Regions from separate parts of the Homo sapiens genome. Here region 2 is linked to region 1. Evidence: fine-mapped expression QTL. Tissue or cell type: whole blood. Region 1 holds a variant in brackets; the other region holds the start of a gene. All regions are shown on one strand. Distances are between the middles of the regions. Region 1 holds the start of C11orf91 (chromosome 11 open reading frame 91). Region 2 holds the start of CD59 (CD59 molecule (CD59 blood group)).

What was found.
Region 2: it holds the start of CD59, and the variant in region 1 is fine-mapped to the expression of CD59 in whole blood (TOPMed, PIP above 0.99).

What each region holds. Positions count from the first base shown.
Region 1 is chr11:33,698,762-33,704,112 of GRCh38, reverse strand. It overlaps C11orf91 (chromosome 11 open reading frame 91), which reads left to right and starts at 3,287. Exons shown (of 2, transcript NM_001166692.2): 1 at 3,287-3,868. The coding sequence starts at 3,373. CD59 (CD59 molecule (CD59 blood group)) reads left to right here. Exons shown (of 4, transcript NM_000611.6): 4 at 1-1,103. RefSeq lists silencers at 3,112-3,351, 3,532-3,621. The variant G/A (reference allele first, on the strand shown) is at 2,836.
Region 2 is chr11:33,733,959-33,739,332 of GRCh38, reverse strand. It overlaps CD59 (CD59 molecule (CD59 blood group)), which reads left to right and starts at 2,910. Exons shown (of 4, transcript NM_000611.6): 1 at 2,910-2,951. RefSeq lists a silencer at 2,792-3,261.

The sequences.
Region 1 (5,351 bases):
TAAAGAGGCTGAGCACCTGGTCAGGATCTGATGGCTGACAGTGTGTCCAGATGCAGAGCTGGAGTGGGGGAGGGGAAGGGGGGCTCCTTGGGACAGAGAAGGCTTTCTGTGCTTTCTCTGAAGGGAGCAGTCTGAGGACCAAGGGAACCCGGCAAACAGCACCTCAGGTACTCCAGGCCCTCCTGGCTGGAGAGGGCTGTGGCAATGGAAAATTAGTGCCAACTGCAATGAGTCAGCCTCGGTTAAATAGAGAGTGAAGAATGCTGGACAGGAACCTCCACCCTCATGTCACATTTCTTCAGTGTGACCCTTCTGGCCCCTCTCCTCCTGACAGCGGAACAATGACTGCCCCGATAGGTGAGGCTGGAGGAAGAATCAGTCCTGTCCTTGGCAAGCTCTTCACTATGACAGTAAAGGCTCTCTGCCTGCTGCCAAGGCCTGTGACTTTCTAACCTGGCCTCACGCTGGGTAAGCTTAAGGTAGAGGTGCAGGATTAGCAAGCCCACCTGGCTACCAGGCCGACAGCTACATCTTTCAACTGACCCTGATCAACGAAGAGGGACTTGTGTCTCTCAGTTGGTTCCAAATGAAACCAGGGAGCAGGGGCGTTAGGAAGCTCCAACAGGATGGTACTTAATGGGGCATTTGAGTGGAGAGGTAGGTGACATAGTGCTTTGGAGCCCAGGGAGGGAAAGGTTCTGCTGAAGTTGAATTCAAGACTGTTCTTTCATCACAAACTTGAGTTTCCTGGACATTTGTTTGCAGAAACAACCGTAGGGTTTTGCCTTAACCTCGTGGGTTTATTATTACCTCATAGGGACTTTGCCTCCTGACAGCAGTTTATGGGTGTTCATTGTGGCACTTGAGTTTTCTTGCATACTTGTTAGAGAAACCAAGTTTGTCATCAACTTCTTATTTAACCCCCTGGCTATAACTTCATGGATTATGTTATAATTAAGCCATCCAGAGTAAAATCTGTTTAGATTATCTTGGAGTAAGGGGGAAAAAATCTGTAATTTTTTCTCCTCAACTAGATATATACATAAAAAATGATTGTATTGCTTCATTTAAAAAATATAACGCAAAATCTCTTTTCCTTCTAAGGGCCTTTAATATGTAATAACAAGAGCTAATGTTGAACACAAGCCATTGCCAGGTACTTAAACTGTCTCACTTAGTCTTGCCAACCTAAGCAAGTAGATGCCATTACTATTCCCATTATATTGATGAAAAAATGAGGTTGAGAAAGGTTCAGCCGCACAGCCAAATACATAGTGGATCCAGGGTTTGGTCCCAAGTCTTGAGTCCAAAACCCTGGTTCTTACCATTACTGTGGTTCTGTAGGGGTGAAAAAATTTTTCTTCTAATCTCTTAGGTTCAGAGCCTGGGGCCTGAGAATTAAACTGACAAAGACAGATTAACAGAAGACAAAGTTTATTACGCAGGTACATGGGGTTCTTACAGAAACAAAGTGAAAACCCAAAGAAGTGGCTTGAGAGCTTATATACAATTTTAACAATGGGCGATTGTAGAAAAGTGATAAGACAAAGGAAAAGAGGTTTGAGCTTCTTGGGCAGTAAATTATGGGAAGTTAAATATGTGGGGGAAACTAATGGAAGATAAGGGTATTTTTTATTTTATTTTATTTTATTTATTTTGAGACAGGGTCCTGCCTTGTCACCCAGGCTGGAGTGCAGTGCTATGATTGTGGCTCACTGCAGCCTCAACCTCAGCCTCCTTGGTTCAAGAAATCCTCCCACTTCAGCTCCTGAGTGGCTCCAGGCAAATGCCACCACACCTGGTTAATTTTTTAAATTATTTTATAGAGACAGAATCTCGCTATGTTGCCCCTGGCTGTTCTCAAACTCTTGGCCTCAAGAGATCCCACCTCAGACTCCCAGAGTGCTGGGATTACAGGCTGGGTGCTGAGCTATCGCACATGGCCTGTATTAGCCATAGACTGAGGGGAAATACATTTTCTTGAGAGCCTCAGCCTAGTGATCACTTGTATGAATAAACAATGATGGGTGGCTGCCAAAGTCAGAGAGCAAATACTGCGTGTGACAACTAAGTGTGGGAAGCTCAGTGTGGGAAGAAAAAGCTTCCCAGTTTCAGACATGCCCCTTAGTAGGGACAGCTGCCTCTTGTGTTTGGACAAAGTGTCCAAGTTCAAGTGTTTCACACACACACTGTTCCGTCTTCTGTTTGATCACAACCCTATGAGGCAGCCTGGTTTTCTTATTTCTATTTTATGGAAAACCTACTTAAAAGTCAAGCAACTTGTCCAAGGCTACCCAGCTTGAATATCTGACTCTCTCCACTTTGCTGCTACACACACACACACACACACACACACACTTTGCACTGTGTGTGCAGATACATATGCATATATATATTTAACTTGTGAAGCTGATACTGACTCTTTAACTGCCCTCCACCCATCACTAGTCATACCAGTGATCATTAGGCAGAGGCTCTCAAGAAAATGTATTAGTTATTTCCCCTCAGTCTATGGCTAATACAGGTTACTCACATAAATGAGCTGTCATGTCCTTTGGACAAAATGTCCAAATCGCTCATAAGCAATGGGTGAAGTATTTGAGGTAGGGCGGACAGGATTTCCTTTTGGTGGTTAGCTCGTTGCCTGTTAGCTCCTGGTGATATCTGTGTTTGGAAGAGAACTAAACTGCATTTCACTGAAAACACTCCTTCAGGTCTATTACAAACCAGATGAGGATCCCCTTTTCTAGAATCTTCCTCAACACTGCTAACGTTTGGCAGATACATAGGTTGGCTCTAACAGCCATTCCCAATCAATCCTCTTCTCCTTTGTCT[G/A]CCTCCCACAGTAGTGGATGAAAAATCAGACACTGATTTTCTCAGACTTCTTTGCTGTGGGCGCGGCCAGTGAGGCAATGAGGTAAGTCTGCTGGTGCAGGGGCCAGGTTTCTAGGAAATACTTTTCTCCCTCATGGGAGAAAGAGAGGAAGCCTGAAGTAAGCTTTCTTCTGCAGCCCTGGCCCGCTGCCTGTTCTGGATGAGGGTATGCTGGGATATGACAACGGAAGCCAGCGGGGTCGCAGAGCAAGAGCGAGGCGGTGGGCGGAGTCGAGGGACGGGAGGCGAGGCGAGGCGAGCCAGGGGGCGTGGCTTTCTAACTGCGGGGTGCGGCCAGCCGAGGTGGGCGGGGCCGCGTTCCGGGACGTGGTCGTCCGGGCTTTGGAACCCCGCCTGTTAGGGGCCGGGCTGAGGCGAAAGGGTGGGGCCGCGCTCCATCGGGGCGGGGCTTGTGGAACCTCGAAACCCCGGCGACTCGGGGCCTGAGCGCGCGTCTCCCGGCGCGGGGTTCCTCCCACGCAGACCCTCATTCAAACGATGCCAAAGGGGCGGCGCGGCAGCCACAGCCCCACCATGAGCCAGCGGTCGGCTCCGCCCCTCTATTTCCCGTCCCTGTACGACCGCGGCATCTCCTCGTCCCCGCTCAGCGACTTCAACATCTGGAAGAAGCTCTTCGTGCCGCTGAAGGCGGGCGGGGCGCCAGTGGGCGGGGCGGCGGGGGCCCGGTCCCTGTCCCAGGCGCTCCCCGCCCCGGCGCCCCCGCCCCCGCCACCACCCGGCCTGGGTCCCTCCAGCGAGCGCCCCTGGCCCTCGCCCTGGCCCTCCGGCCTGGCCTCCATCCCCTACGAGCCTCTGCGCTTCTTCTACTCACCGCCGCCGGGGCCTGAGGTGGTTGCCTCGCCCCTGGTCCCCTGCCCCTCGACCCCCAGGCTCGCCTCTGCCTCCCACCCGGAGGAGCTCTGCGAGCTGGAGATCCGGATTAAGGAGCTGGAGTTGCTCACCATCACTGGGGACGGCTTCGACTCCCAGAGCTGTGCGTGACCTCGCCAGGGCCACCGAGCCCAGCCTTAGCCTGCCCTAGCTCCCTCCTTGGCTCCGTGCCCCGACCCGAAATGTAGCCTGGTTTGACTCCAGCCCCCAGTAGTCCCAGATCCAAAATCTATCCCCTAGCACCCAGACTCCCTTATCCTGGACTTAACCGACTCCTCCCCCCACCACAGATCTGAACTTCATGAGCCTCTTAGTCCCAAACTCCATCCTCCCTCCGTCCTAAACCCTTTGGGTCATCTGGACTCTGAGCCTCCACACCTGGAACTCCATCCGCCACCACCCCGTCCTGAACTTTAATCCTCCTGCACAGTCATCCTCCTACCCTGTACTCTGGAGCTCCACCCACCACAGACAGTCCCTAAGCTTTAATGTTCGGTCCTAAACCGGGGCTCTCCATGGGGGGAAGGTGAAGTAAGGTGACTGTCAGTTGTCTGTAGGGGGAGGTGGGAGTTGTGCAAGAACCACAAGGCCCAAGGCCGTTTCCAGGGCAGCTTTGGGACACTCCACTTCTCAATGCTGGGGGGCAGCCCCCCTGGGACTCTGTGGCCTTGGCGCCGGTAGTTCTCTCACCAGGATCCTGGGCTGATATCTGGTCTTACGTCTGAAGTCTTAGGGCTCTGGACCACGTGTGCTGATGCGGGCAGGATCCCTCAGCCTACGAGCTGAATGACTCCTCCCTGTTGGAGGGTAAAGTTGTTAAATGCCTTGTACTCCAAGAAGGACCTATTGCAAAGTAGAACTTTCAGTAGCGGTAGGTTGTCCTGCAGACTTTGTCTTTCCCATCACTTGTTTTGGCTAAGGCTTGTCCTTGACCACTGGAGAAGGGCAGATAGTTCTAAAAAGATCATTCCAACTATCGTATATAACGGCTTAAGTTGGCTTCCCCTGCCACACAGAGAAGGGAAGTATGAAATAACCTAAATGCTTAGGTCCGTGTGGCCATGGAAATGGTCTTCAGTTCATCAGACACACTGTAATGCACCCTTTCTCATAGCCATGGAAGGAAGACAGTCCCTAGAAAAACTGGGCTTTGCTAAGTCCTGGATTTCTTAACTATGAATACATACATAATACTATGTATTCATAGTTAAGAAATCTTAACCGAATACATAGTTAAGAAATCCAGGGGCCGGGTGTGGTGGCTGGCACTTGTAATCTCAGCACTTTGGGGGGGCCAATGCGGGTGGATCATTTGAGGTCAGGAGCCTGACCAACAAGAGGATCATTGAGGACCAGCCTGACCAACATGGTAAAACCCTGTCTCTACTAAAATACAAAAATGAGCCGGGCTTGGTGGCACACATTTGTAATCTCATCTACTCGGGAGGATGAGGCAGGAGAATCGCTTGAACCCAGGAGGCCGAGGTTGCAGTAAGCCAAGATTGTGCCACTGCACTCCAACCTGGGTGAAAGAGTGAGACTCCCTCTCAAAAAAAAAAAAAAAAAAAAAAAATTAGAAGAAGAAG
Region 2 (5,374 bases), 35 kb before region 1:
GCCCGGCCTAACGTGAAGTTTGTTGGTAACAAGCTTCTGTATTTTCTGCTATTGGCAAGAATGCTTATTCACACGTAACAGGAATTTAACAGTTGGCATTAATGTTGCCCAAACCAGACTCTACTTTTGGTGGTGAAAAGGCCATTTCTGGCTCTGAGGACCCTTGAAAACACAACTGATTTTTTTTACTAATTTCTCTGAGGCTTGATATATCACTAGAATAAGACAAATACCTAAATTAACAGTAGCTTAAATAGTTTGGGGGTGGTTATTCTTGCGAATAGTCAGAGGTAGCTAGTTCAAGGCTGACATGATGGCACAGTGGTGTTATCAACAGTCCAGATTGGCTCCATCTTTCTGACCTGCCATCCTTAGCACAAGACTTTTCCTCTCAAAGACGATCATGGTTGCATACTGGCTGCTGCAGGCATATTGTATTCACAAAAGGATGATGATAACAAGGTAAAATGAAGTGGAAAATGAAAAGTGAGGCATGAGGCTGGAGAGGTAAACTAGCCAGGTCTCTAGCAGCCGTGTGGAGGGCAAGCAGAGAAGGGGCAGGGGATGCAGGAATTGACATGGGCAACATGGGGACCTGGTATTAAGGAATTGTAATGGCTCAAGCAACGCAAACTACAGATCTGAATTAGCACAGTAGCAATGTGAAAAAGGAATGAAATTGAGATATTGAAATGGTAAAATAGGCAGGAATGGCTGAGTAGATGTGAGGGAGTGGAAGAGGTCAACGTTGATTCCTAGGTTTCTGTCTTCATTTATGAAAAAAATTCAGGAAAAGCAGTCACTCTTTAAAGATGAATTCAGATTTGTGCACATTAAGTTCAAGATGTCTGTGGAACATATAAGTGGAGATGTCCAGCAGTCAGCTGGATATGAATATGAAGATAGGGGGAGTGGTCAGGGATGGAGACAGACTTTTGAATCATCTGCAAACATACATCCCAAGGTAAAAGAGTAGATACACTATAGTCTCCCAGGGAGCACACACAGCCATGGTTCTCAGTCTAATCCTGGGACACCAAATTATTAGTGGGTAAAGGAAAAGAATCTCAAGACCGAATGGTCAAGAAACCATTCTAGGGAACCAAACTAGGAGAGAGTGGCATCTCAGAAGCCAAGCGTGTCAAGGAAGGAATAGCTAACAGGATGTGTGTAAGGTATGTACACAAAAGAGCTTTGGAATCCATCTTGGGAAATATACAGTATTAGCTGTTTTAAGGAGACATGCTTTAAATATCAAAGCAAGTCATCCTGATTTAAAAAACTCCCACTTGTATAGAGGAATACCAGGATTTGAGCACCACCAAATGGAACTCATTCCCTGACATCCCAAAGCCATCAGAATAACAGTAGAAGCGTCAAGACAGTTACTATATGATTTTCCCTGCAAGACATTCAGTAATCTATGATTCCCCCTGCTTAAATTTTATCTCATGCCTTCTTCCCTGACCAGTTCAACACAAGCAGCCCTGAGATGTAATATCTTCTCACCCTGACCCTCAAAGTGTGTCTCATGCTTTCTAACAGAGGCCATCCTCTTGGAGGAAGACTTGTACTTTTGGCCTGTAGCCCCACCCTCCCTCCTATGGCGTTCTTACAGTCAGTTCTGCAGTGAGTGGGACACTTTCCAAATATAATAGCAAATGGAAACTTCTAATTACATCTGCACATAAAACTAATGTTCCAAATGGTGGTTGCGGTTCTGGTGAGTGCTTATAATTTTTTGTTACCTCAGCATCCATTTTTGAATATGTTTAACTTTTAATAACAGAAGCAAGTCTCAGTCACCATTGACAGTTTCCAGTACTATACCCCACGCAAATGGCTCTAGCTGGTGGCCAGAGATAAACATGCAGTGATGTGATAACAGGGCACTACTGCAGCTTCAAACTCTGGTTCAAGTTCCTCCCACCTCTGCCTTTTCACCTGCTTGCTTTTAAATCCACCAGTTAGAGCTCTCCAGAGGAAACCTAACTGGATAAAGTTGCTGGCCCAAAGGTCCGTTCCTCCCTTCCCTCTCCCTGTTCTCCCTGATCTCCGTGTGTGTGTGTGTGTGTGTGTGTGTGTGTGTGTGTGTGTCCTCTAGGCAAGCTGTGTACCACCCAGGGTCCGTAAGTACTAAAAACTCTTAAACTTTCACACCGCTGTGTTATTGAAACCATGCCTACAATCCAGTCCCTGAGGCGAGGCCACCCTGAAGGGACAGACTCATGCAGGCGGATCCCCTGGTCTTGCTCTTCTGTCCCTGCCTCTGGTGGCTGCTGGGGAACAGTAGCTACCAGCTAAGTTGATAGAGACACTCGAAGAGGTTCATTCAAAACACTGGTCCCCGAGCAGCCCAGTAAGCTTTTAAACGCATAACATTTTGTTTGGGTCTCAAACAAGTCACAAGGCACGGATACGGATGCGGCTGTGGCTGATGGCTATTTGGATGCTGCCCAAGCCTCGCAGTAGGAAGCAGCTTCAGACTGCAGCAGGGCCGCATAGCCCGATAGCCAGGCCCTGGGGCACCCAGGGCACCAGCAAGACGCACAGAAACGTTTTGAAAAACATTTTAATATACTTAAAAAAAAAGTAAAAGGGAAAATCAGAAGTCTTTGGAAGTTTCCTACTGTTTTTATGTCCCATAGCAAATCCGAGGAGGACGCCCCAAACTTTCAGTTCCCTGGGGTTTTGAAGGTGCTCATTGGGTCCTGGCCACCCGGCCTTCTCAGAACCTGGGCCAGGAGGCTGAGCTCCGCGCGGGGGTGGAGGGAGAGGAGGAGGTTCCTGCCGAGGTGCGGCTGCGCGGTGCGGGAGCCGGGAGCCTGGGAGGGCAAGGGCATCCTGAGGGGCGGGGCCGGGGGGCGGAGCCTTGCGGGCTGGAGCGAAAGAATGCGGGGGCTGAGCGCAGAAGCGGCTCGAGGCTGGAAGAGGATCTTGGGCGCCGCCAGGTAAGAAGGCCCGAAGGCCTGCTGGGGTTTGGGTGAGCCGAGCCGAGGTGGCGGCGGCAGTCTGGGCCCGGGCGGAGGGTCTGTGGGGGCTACCCCCGTCCTCGCTTTCCACTCGACCCCTGCCGGGCGAGCCTCCCGAGGCCTGGCCCTTCCAACCCGTCACCGCGGCCCGGTGTCCTAGCCGAACGCTGGCTTCATTTTATCTACGAGGAAGGAGAAACGGGGAGCGCGCCCTCTCCCAGAAGCAGCCCCGTTACCCCCGTCGCGCCCCCCATTCCCTCGGGGGCAGCCTCGCACCCGGGCCCCTGCCATCGCTTTCGTCTCAAGGGAAGCTCTAGCGGTCCAGAGAAACTGCGCCGGGGGAAAGGCCAGCCCTCCGTGGTCACGGCAGTTCCTCTCTCCCCTCGCGGTCTAAATGTGTAATTTTGAAAAGCAGGTGTCGGGCGAAACGGACTTTTTTTTTTTTTTGAGATGGAGTTTCGCTGTTGCCCAGGCTGGAGTGCAGTGGCGCGATCTGGGTTCACCGCAACCTCCGTGTACCGGGTTCAAGCGATTCTCCTGCCACAGCCTCCTGAGTAGCTGGGATTACAGGCATGCGCCACCATGCCTGGCTAAATTTTGTATTTTTAGTAGAAACGGGGTTTTCCCATGTTGGTCAGGCTGATCTTGAATTCCTGACCTCGTGATCCGCCCGCCTCCGCCTCCCAAAGTGTTGGGATTACAGGTGTGAGCCACCGCGCCCGGCCGAAACGGACGTTTTAAGTACAACGTGATGTTTTGTTTTCTTGGGTCGGCTCGGGCCGCACCCTTCTTAGAGTCTGACTGCTGACTTTTCAAAAAACAACATTAACCCGGGAGGCTGAGGTAGCGGTGAGCCGAGATCGCGCCATTGCCCTACTGCCTGGGCAATAAGAGCGAGACTCCGCCTCAAAAACGAACAAAACCCACAAAGAACAAACAAAAAAAACCAACATTAAGCAGTGTGCCTTTTATGGCCGTTTAGTGATACCCAGGCTCTTCACTGGTCATTTCTGGAAGTATTTAACAGCACTTGATGGGTAAAACAATAGGCTTCACTTCACAGGGTGGTTGAGATGATTGACGGAAAGCGCTCAGCACAAACGCGGCGGCTGCTAATTATTTCAGGTACCCTGCGATCCCTGAGCAGTTGTTCAAGTTCTCCACTCCTGGCGGTTTACTCCCAGTTCCCTGAAGAAGGCACAGAGCCCCGAATGTTGAGGGAGATGGCAACGTTTGCCAAAATGTGGCTATTTACGTGGCAGTTTATGAAGGAGAGGCAGAAAGGGAGGCTGCCTCCCCTACAAGCCAAACAGTCCTAAAACTTGTGGCCTCTGTATTTTCACAGTGGAAACTAGAAACTGTTTGCTGAACTTAGCTGTAAGAAAAACATCCCATTAGCTGAGTGGCTTAGGAGATAAAAGCCTAAATAAAATGGATCTTAGGGTGAGAGAGTGGGGTGCCTAATGGCATTCATCTTTGACAGCTGCTGGTAGAAGCTCTTGAAAAGTAGAGCATGGAAAATTCTGGGCCACCTCTTTAAGAACCTCAGCCAAACCGCCACAGACATTGCCAAGCCCAGAAGTGCTTGAGGCTTTCTAAAGGCAAAGACTTCTTTTTACTTATGTCCTATATCTTAGGAAACATATTCACTAAACCTTGGTTTTGCATGTGTACTTAACACGGGAGGGGCCGTGAGTGCGGAGATAGGACTCTTTGGAGAGTTAGGGATTGGCATTCCGGAACAAACTGCAGGAAAGGCCCTTGTAGGGGAAGCTGCAGATTTGTTTGGTCCAAAGAGTTCTGGCCTAATAAGTGGGAGCTGACCAATGAGAACACTTGGACACAGGGAGGGGAACAACACACACTGGCGCCTGTCGGCAGGTGGGGTGGGTGGGGATAGAGCATTAGGAAAAACAGCTAATGCATGCTGGGCTTAATACCTAGGTGATGGGTTGATAGGTGCAGCAAACCACCATGGTACACGTTTACCTATGAAACAAATCTGCACATCCTGCACATGTACCCTAGAATTTATATGTATATCACACAAAGAGTTTTGGAGTGGTTATTCCTGGCATGAGAACCTTGGCTGGATTGGAAAGCCTTTTCCGTTATGATGGTTGTTTTCTCTTTGTCTCTTCCTGCTGATGTAATTTGTTCCGTGAACTGAGTGATGGATGTTTGTCTGGGCGCTTCAACAGGCATGGCTAGAGCAGGTATTGTGTATGTCTCCAAGGTGACACGCAGACCTGGGGTTCAAAAGCTCTAGTTCTCTGACATTGCTGACACTAGGTATCTTGTGAGTTGCCAGCCCCTGGCGAATAGAAACAAGATCCATCCAGGGTGGTTTTGCGACTAACATGTTGCCTTGGGACAGGTAATTTCATCCCACTGGGCCTCCA